2 linked regions of the Homo sapiens genome follow. The protein of the gene in region 2 interacts with the protein of the main gene of each other region in a pairwise test. Each region holds a gene or a part of one and is shown on either strand. Other genes may lie near its edges.

What was found. The genes of interacting proteins can lie anywhere in the genome.
Region 1: the proteins of FBXL3 (region 2) and CRY1 interact in a protein complementation assay, tested with the Homo sapiens proteins (one study listed by BioGRID).

What each region holds. Positions count from the first base shown.
Region 1 is NC_000012.12:106,999,411-107,004,207, reverse strand, and holds part of CRY1 (cryptochrome-1), read left to right. Parts: intron 1-2,259; coding exon 2,260-2,444; intron 2,445-2,839; coding exon 2,840-2,928; intron 2,929-4,125; coding exon 4,126-4,266; intron 4,267-4,345; coding exon 4,346-4,657; intron 4,658-4,797.
Region 2 is NC_000013.11:77,020,660-77,024,159, forward strand, and holds part of FBXL3 (F-box/LRR-repeat protein 3), read right to left. Parts: intron 1,203-3,500; 5' UTR 1,202-1,202; coding exon 854-1,201; intron 1-853. UniProt on the Homo sapiens protein: Substrate-recognition component of the SCF(FBXL3) E3 ubiquitin ligase complex involved in circadian rhythm function. Plays a key role in the maintenance of both the speed and the robustness of the circadian clock oscillation.

The sequences.
Region 1 (4,797 bases), on a different chromosome or scaffold from region 2:
CAATTTGCTTAACTTTAAGGAGCTCATAGCAAGGAGGGGGCAACACAGGATAAAAGCAGTTGCTTCTAAGTGGGAGACTCAGTGTTATGCATAAAATTGTTTAGGCTAGGCGCGATGGCTCACACCTGTAATCCCAGCACTTTGGGAGGCCGAGGCAGATGGATCACGAGGTCAGGAGTTCAAGACCAGCCTGGCCAAAATGGTGAAACCCTCATCTCTACTAAAAATACAAAAATTAGCCAGGCATAGTGGCGGGTGCCTGTAATCCAGCTACTTGGGAGGCTGAGGGAGGAGAATCACTTGAACCCGGGAGGCAGACGTTGCAGTGAGCCAAGATAGCACCACTGCATTCCAGCCTGGGCAATAGAGCAAGACTCTGTCTCAAAAAAAAAAAAAAAAATCAAGTGTTTATTGGATTGAATGTGAATATTTACTATATGTAATCTATCATATTAAAATGTAACATATAGAAAATGTTTTGTCCTAAGATTCTCATTTTGCTACTGTTGTGTAATTAACAATGTCCTCAGTAGTATTATTGTAGCATCATTACATTCAGCAAAATTCATTGCAACCCTATGAATAAATTCAAAATACACCAAAACAAAATTTACTTAAACAGGATATCTTTTATGGTGATTGCTTTCTGTATTACTTTCTGTATGTATCTGTAGTTGATACATCACTACGTATTGTATAATGAAAAATACACTAAAATACACTAAGAAAACCTTGATTTGCCGTTTATCAGTTATATGACCTTGACTAGTTTACTTAACTCTCCTGGTAGGCCTGTTTTCACATCTATAAAATGATGGAGTTGGATTTCACCTGTCATTTTTTATTAAGGCCAAATGCTAAGCAAATGGCCATAGTGAAAAAGAGTAGTTATTCCAAAAGAGTGTCTAAACTTAATCTTTAACTACCATTGGCAAAGCTAGTTATTTTTTTAATTAATAATTGATTGAGTTAATTAATGATCAGAAGTAAAAAGATACTTAAATTTAAATAACTTGAAATTTGGGGGCTTATGTGTTCTAAGTATGTGACATAGATACATATGCTGACATCTCTCATGCCTTCATTAGCACAATAGAAAATAGGAAGTAATTGTCACCACAGTAATATAGAATCAAAATTTATAAAATTTGCTGAAGGAAATAGGGTAATTGTTTTAGTCTGTTTTCACGATGCTGATAAAGACATACCCGAGACTGGGCAATTTACAAAAGAAAGATTTAATGGACTTACAATTCCACACGGCTCAGAAGGCCTCACAATCATGGTGGAAGGCAAGGAGGAGCAAGTCATGTCTTACATGGATGACAGCAGGCAAGGAGGGATCTTGTGCAGGGTAACTCCCCCTTTTAAAAACCATCAGATCTTGTGAGACTTACTCACTATCATGAGAACAGCACGGGAAAGACCTGCCCCCATGATTCAGTTACCTCCCACAGGGTCCCTCCCATGATGTGGGAATTGTGGGAGTTACAACTCAAGATGAGATTTTGGTGGGGGCACAGCCAAACCATATCAGGAATGTAGGTCCAAGGATACAAAGTAGAAGTTATGTAAGATGAACAACACTAGAGGTCTAGTGTACAGAGTAAGGATTTTAGTTAATAAAATTGTATTTTATTTGGAATTTTAATCAAATAAGTAGATTTTAGCTGCTTTTGTCACACACATACAAAAAAGTAACTGAGATTATAAATATGTTAATCTGCTTCACTATAGTAACCATTTTACTATCTACATGTATCCCATAATGTGTTGTAAACTCAAATATATACAATAAAATTTATTTTTCCTAAATGAGACCTGCTGATTACTCTTTCATATAATTATCAACCTGGTTTAGTTTTTATTGATGATTGAGATTCTTTGAGCTGGGCCATAACATGTTTTTCATATGTCTGTGTGTATTAACTTTTTGTAATTGCCTTTAGACTAATTTCCCCTCTTACTTGTTTTTTCCTCTCATAAGTTTTTAATATTCTTTGTCTTAAAGGTTTAATATTTGTGTAGTATATTTGTGTAGTATATTTGATACCCAGAGGATGTCTAGAAGCTCAGGAGAATGATTTTTGGACTCATTAATCATTTTGGACACATTTCTTGGTCATTATAACAAGCTAACACCCTCAAAGACTTCAGTGATTAATTTTATTTTCTGCTTTTTAAGCCTTTTGGGAGCTTATTAGCCAAAATGTATTGTCTTTTTTAATACTAACTACATTTTACTAACTCTTGTTATAGGATCATAGAACTCAATGGTGGACAACCGCCTCTAACTTATAAAAGATTCCAGACTCTCATCAGCAAAATGGAACCACTAGAGATACCAGTAGAGACAATTACTTCAGAAGTGATAGAAAAGTGCACAACTCCTCTGTCTGATGACCATGATGAGAAATATGGAGTCCCTTCACTGGAAGAGCTAGGTGAGTGTAAACTGTAGTCAGTGTGAGGCTTGCAAGTTAATAAATCATAAATTACTCAGAAAATTCCCCTTTTAATTTTGCCATGTAAAGTATTTTGCATTAGGAGAGAAAGAAAGGGCAGGGGGAGAAGAAAAAGAACCCTTTAAGAAGTGATATGTTTGTTCATCATTTATGTGTTTTATAAATATGTGATCTATTGTTACCACCTTAAGATGTACATCCTGAAAAATTGAAACCATGTCATATCCTCTATAGGTGAGGGCTTATTTAGGCCTTCAGTTCATTTTTATGGTACTCTCTTAATTTTTCTGCAAAGTAATTTGTTCTCCCAGTTATTGGGGTTAAATAAAAATTAGTTTCGGAAGAATGATGTTTTTTTCTTTTCTTTCTTGTAGGTTTTGATACAGATGGCTTATCCTCTGCAGTGTGGCCAGGTGGAGAAACTGAAGCACTTACTCGTTTGGAAAGGCATTTGGAAAGAAAAGTATGATAATGTAGATTATATAGCTATGCTTGTATTTCCAAACTGCCATTTAAAAAATAATTTTTCTCTCTTTTAAAAATAACAAATAGATTGTTGAAAGGGGAGGATTAACAGAAATGGTTAAAATAGCACAAACCTAATTGTTTGAAAGTTAACTACCATCTCCTCATTTAAATGCTCTTTCTCCTTCTCTTCTAATTATTTCCCCTTTAGCTACTACCGCACTACCTCTTCTGTTCTTTCTACCTAAGCTAGTATCTAGTGGCCACAATTTCGAAACTAGAATAGAATTATATTTCACCTTTACCTTTGTGTTAAAGAGAGGTTGAAAGCCAGGCATGGTGGCTTACGCCTGTAATCCCAGCACTTTGGGAGGCTGACGCAGGTGGATCACTTGAGGTCAGGAGTTCAAGACCAGCCTGGCCAACATGGCAAAACCCCCATCTTTACTAAAAATACAAAAGTTAGCCAGGGTGGTGGTGTGTGCCTTTAATTCCAGCTACTTGGGATGCTGAGGCATGAGAATTGTTTGAACCCAGGAGGCAGAAGTCGCAGTAAGCCAAGATCGTACCACTGTACTCCAGCCTGGGTGATGGAGTGAGACTCCATCTCAAAATAAATAAATAAATTTTCCAGGCCTGGTGGCTCATACCTGTAATCCCAACACTTTGGGAGGCTGAGGTGGGCAGATCATTTGGGGTCAGGAGTTTGAGACCAGCCTGGCCAACATGGTGAAATCCCATCCCTACTAAAAATACAAAAATTAGCCGGGCGTGGTGGCGCATGCCTGTAGTCGCAGCTACTCAGGAGGCTGAGGCAAGAGAATCCTCCACCCGGGAGCTGGAGGTTGCAGTGAGCCGAGATTGAGCCACTGCACTCCAGCCTGGGTGACAGAGCGAGACCCTGTCTCAGGAAAAAAAAAAAAGAGAGAGAGATTGAAGGTGCTCTCAGCTTTCTGTTGGAAATTTGAAGGAAATTTATTTCACATGAGTATGTGCTGCACAAGGACGACTGAAACAAAAGAATGCTCACTTTTTTATCCTGTCTTATTTTTTATTAAAACATGTAATTTGTGGCTAGGATAAGATTTTATTCCCCAAGAACTATGTAACTTTAAAAAAAAAAATCTCCATTCTGAGTGTTCTTTTAAAATGAAAAAGACAATTAGTTAATATAATTTTCTCTGTGTGTTTTCAGGCTTGGGTGGCAAATTTTGAAAGACCTCGAATGAATGCGAATTCTCTGCTTGCAAGCCCTACTGGACTTAGTCCTTATCTCCGATTTGGTTGTTTGTCATGTCGACTGTTTTACTTCAAACTAACAGATCTCTACAAAAAGGTATTCTCTAAAATTAGAGCTTATTGTTTAATACTTTAAAAAAAAATTCTGATAATACTTCTTTGCTTTTTAACCATAGGTAAAGAAGAACAGTTCCCCTCCCCTTTCCCTTTATGGGCAACTGTTATGGCGTGAATTTTTCTATACAGCAGCAACAAATAATCCACGCTTTGATAAAATGGAAGGAAACCCTATCTGTGTTCAGATTCCTTGGGATAAAAATCCTGAGGCTTTAGCCAAATGGGCGGAAGGCCGGACAGGCTTTCCATGGATTGATGCCATCATGACACAGCTTCGTCAGGAGGGTTGGATTCATCATCTAGCCAGGCATGCAGTTGCTTGCTTCCTGACACGAGGGGACCTGTGGATTAGTTGGGAAGAAGGAATGAAGGTAAGTGTTCTAACTGATATAGCATGCCTTATTTTGAAGGAATCCTTACCTTAATAAAACAAATCCTAGAAGTTGTCTGTTTATAGATTCATTTATGGTGTAGTTTTTCAGTGGATAAAACATTTAATTCCCCAAATACG
Region 2 (3,500 bases):
AGTAAACATGTCCATATTTCATTATTCATCACCCAAACAAAACATGACAAGCCTCACACAAACCACTGTGATTTTTTATTTTTTTAAATAGAGACAGGGTCTCGCTCTGTCACCAAGGCTGTAGTACAGCTGCACAATCATAGCTCACCACAACCTCAAACTCCTGGGCTCATGCAATCTTCCCGCCTCAGCCTCCTGAGAAGCTGGGACTATGGGACTACAGGTACCCACATCCAGCTATGATTTCTTAAATTATTCTGGATATCGCAAAAAGCCACCCACTTCATTTATCTCATCACTGCATGATTTCCAATACCTTCCTTCCAGCAACAAAAAGAAATAAACAGTTCCCTTTGGCATTCTCCCATGTACCTTTTTCTATTTCTCTCTAAAATATATTCATCTAAATCTTCTACATAAAGTTTCTATGCTTCCTTTTCATCTGAAGATCCCATTTCAAAAAGCCATCAGTAAGTAACACTAAGTTCCTGTTAGATAGAAATAGCAATTAAGCTCTACTCAATTATAATCTCCCAATTTTTATTTTATTAGATATTTCTTCTTCCTCAAAATCGTTCACAATAATTCAATGTAATTCACAGCTTTATCAATGACTTATGCTTATTTAGTGGCTGCTTTTGCTGTTTTAAGAAATTATTAATAATTAATAGAGTAATTTAGCTCCATCAAATATAATATTTTGTGACAGCTTCTAAGGTATACAATAATTCTAAATTTTTAAGCATTTTCCCTGAAAAAGCAAATATTTTAAAGGCATGAGAAGATGTACTGGTTTAGGAAACAAAGCCACTAAAAATACTTTATTTTTTAAAAGAAGGATTTAAAATATTACCTTGAAGCTGACATATTGTAGATGGTTTGAATGTCTTTTAATAATCTGTTTGATCAGCTCTGGATGGGTAGCTTTCAAATAAGATGTAGCTGGCTGATTCAGTTCAAATTCAAAACATCTCCACAAGTCAGGCATGTGAAATACCTGGTTCCAGTTGCGGCAAACTTGTGAAGCATGAGCCCGGTCAAGAAGAGGCAAATATTTAAATACTTGGAGAATAATGTCCTGAAGGAGATTACCCCAATCACAAGTCTGAGAATGCTCATTTGTAGTCCTCAGTTTCTTGGATTTCTCTGCAGTTCCTTCTTCTGATGAATTACGGTCACTATCTCTTCCTCCTCGTTTCATCCTATTCCGAAAAATGCATCAGTTTTTTTCCTACTCAACTTTTGAATAGAAATAAACTCAAAATTCATTCTTCTGTCACTGAGATGTGTGTTTATATACACAAACATGCAGGAAAAACTGGATCAGTAATTCAAGAATACCAAAACAAACTATTATGAAAAATGCCAATGAAGGCCAACAATGGTTTTATAAATTTTACACTTTTTTGGCATGTTTTTAAACATCTACATTTATCAGTATAATATACAGTATATACTACATGGGAGAGAGTATTATGATTTTGAAACTATGCTAAGAATTTATATTTCAAAAGTTGTGGTCAACTTAACTAAAATGAATATAAAAGGGAACCTACAGCGATACTTTGTAAAGGTTTCTTAAAAGTCATCTAAGGATATTTGTTCTTGAATTCCAGGCCAACCAGGGTCCCAAGAACCTCCAGAGAGGATGTTCCACATTTAATAGTCTATACAGGGGTCCTGTGGTTCTGGCCTGAGGACCAGAACTGGGCCCCATAGCAGGAAGTGAGCAAGCTTTACAGTCTGAACTCCTCCTCCTGTCAGATCAGCAGCTACATTAGATTCTCATAGGAGTGAGAATCTTATTGTGAAATGTCCACATGAGGGATCTAGGTTGTGCGCTCCTTATGAGACTCTTAATGCCTGATGATCTGAGGTGGAACAGTTTCTTCCTGAAATCACCCCCTGCCACGGACAGGCACTGGGCTATGCTATGTGTTACTGCCAGACATTTCTTAACTCCGCCTAAAATAAGCAAAACCACCCCTACTATGAATTGTTTGGTCTGGAATGTAGCTGCTTCTTCAAACACATCACTTAATATTGCACTGTTTTCCCCAAGTTGTGTTTCTGAATTATACCTATTTGTTTATTCTATGTATTCTTAGCACTTTCATTCCATTAGTTTCTTTGAAAGATAGTTTTTTCATGGCAAAACAGTATTATGGCTAAAGAGAATGGGCTCTGGAACCAAGCTCCTTGGGTTTGAATTCTGGCTCTACCTCTCACTGGCTATGTGGCTTTGAGCAAATTACTTGATATTCCTGTGCTTAAATTTCCAAAATTAGTTTAATAAAACAGGGTTTCTGTGAGAAATGCAATACTATTAAGGCTTTTCAAAGGGGAGATACGACTGTTGAACTGTTGAGATATGACTGTTGTGTAGGAAAGCAGTCCAGCATTAACGACATTAAAGTACACAACATGCTAAAAACCAGGGTTACTACCCAGAAGGCAGAGAATGATTCATTCATTCATTCCGTTCACTCATTCATTCATTCCGTTCACTCATTCATTCAAGATGGGGTCTCGCTCTGTCACCCAGGCTGGAGTGCAGTGGCACGATCATGGCTCACTGCAGCCTCGACCTCCTGAGATCAAGCAATCCTTCCACCTCAGCCTCCAGAGTATCTGCATGCACCACCACACCCGACTCTATTTTTGCTTTAAAATGGAGAGAGAGAGAGTGTGTGTGTGTGTGTGTGTGTGTGTGTCAGAGAGACAGGGCAAGTGAGCTTGTGTACGAGAAAACACACCCTGGAAGTAGACTCACTGAATTATTATAGTAACCAACAGTAGACGGCAGATTACAGGTAATTTTTTTTTCTTGCAAACATCTCTTCCCTTTTTATGTTTTACACATTTTCTTTTACTATCAATGCATTACCGTGTAATCGGACTTTTTGGAAAAGTATAGCAGGCTCTAAACTAAATGGCTGCAGACCACTCACTGGTAGTTACTTAGTTCAGAGCCTGTAATACTTTTGTTTCTAGAGAACAGTTCTGGCAGGGTAGTGGTTTCGACCTAAACTTGGGGTCACAATCTTTCAGAAAGATGGCTTGTTGCTCCAACACTCCTCTGGCCTATCAGCATAAAAGAATTTCTCATTCCTGTGTGAGATGAAGGATATGCATATGCATTACTGTAAAACAAATGTTTCTGCAGACTTTCTCCACCCAGTACCTCGCAAAACTTGTGAAAGAGGATTGAGGGCTGGAGAGTAAAAAGAGAATGGCAGAGGCCTCTGACCTTAATGCCATGAAAGTCAGTCAAAGACGTCTTAGCATATGTGCAATAAACTGCCTATTCTTCACTGCTCCTATTCCCAACTATGTGAATAAAATATATTACGTATACCCTACTGATCAGGGAGAGAACAAGAGAGAAAATAGAATGACAGAGGTGACAGCAAGAAGGTAGTCTGATGGAAGACTGGAAATTATGTGTGACTTGAGATTAGTTTTTTTTTAATAAGTTTAGAGAAAAGTGTATAGTCTAC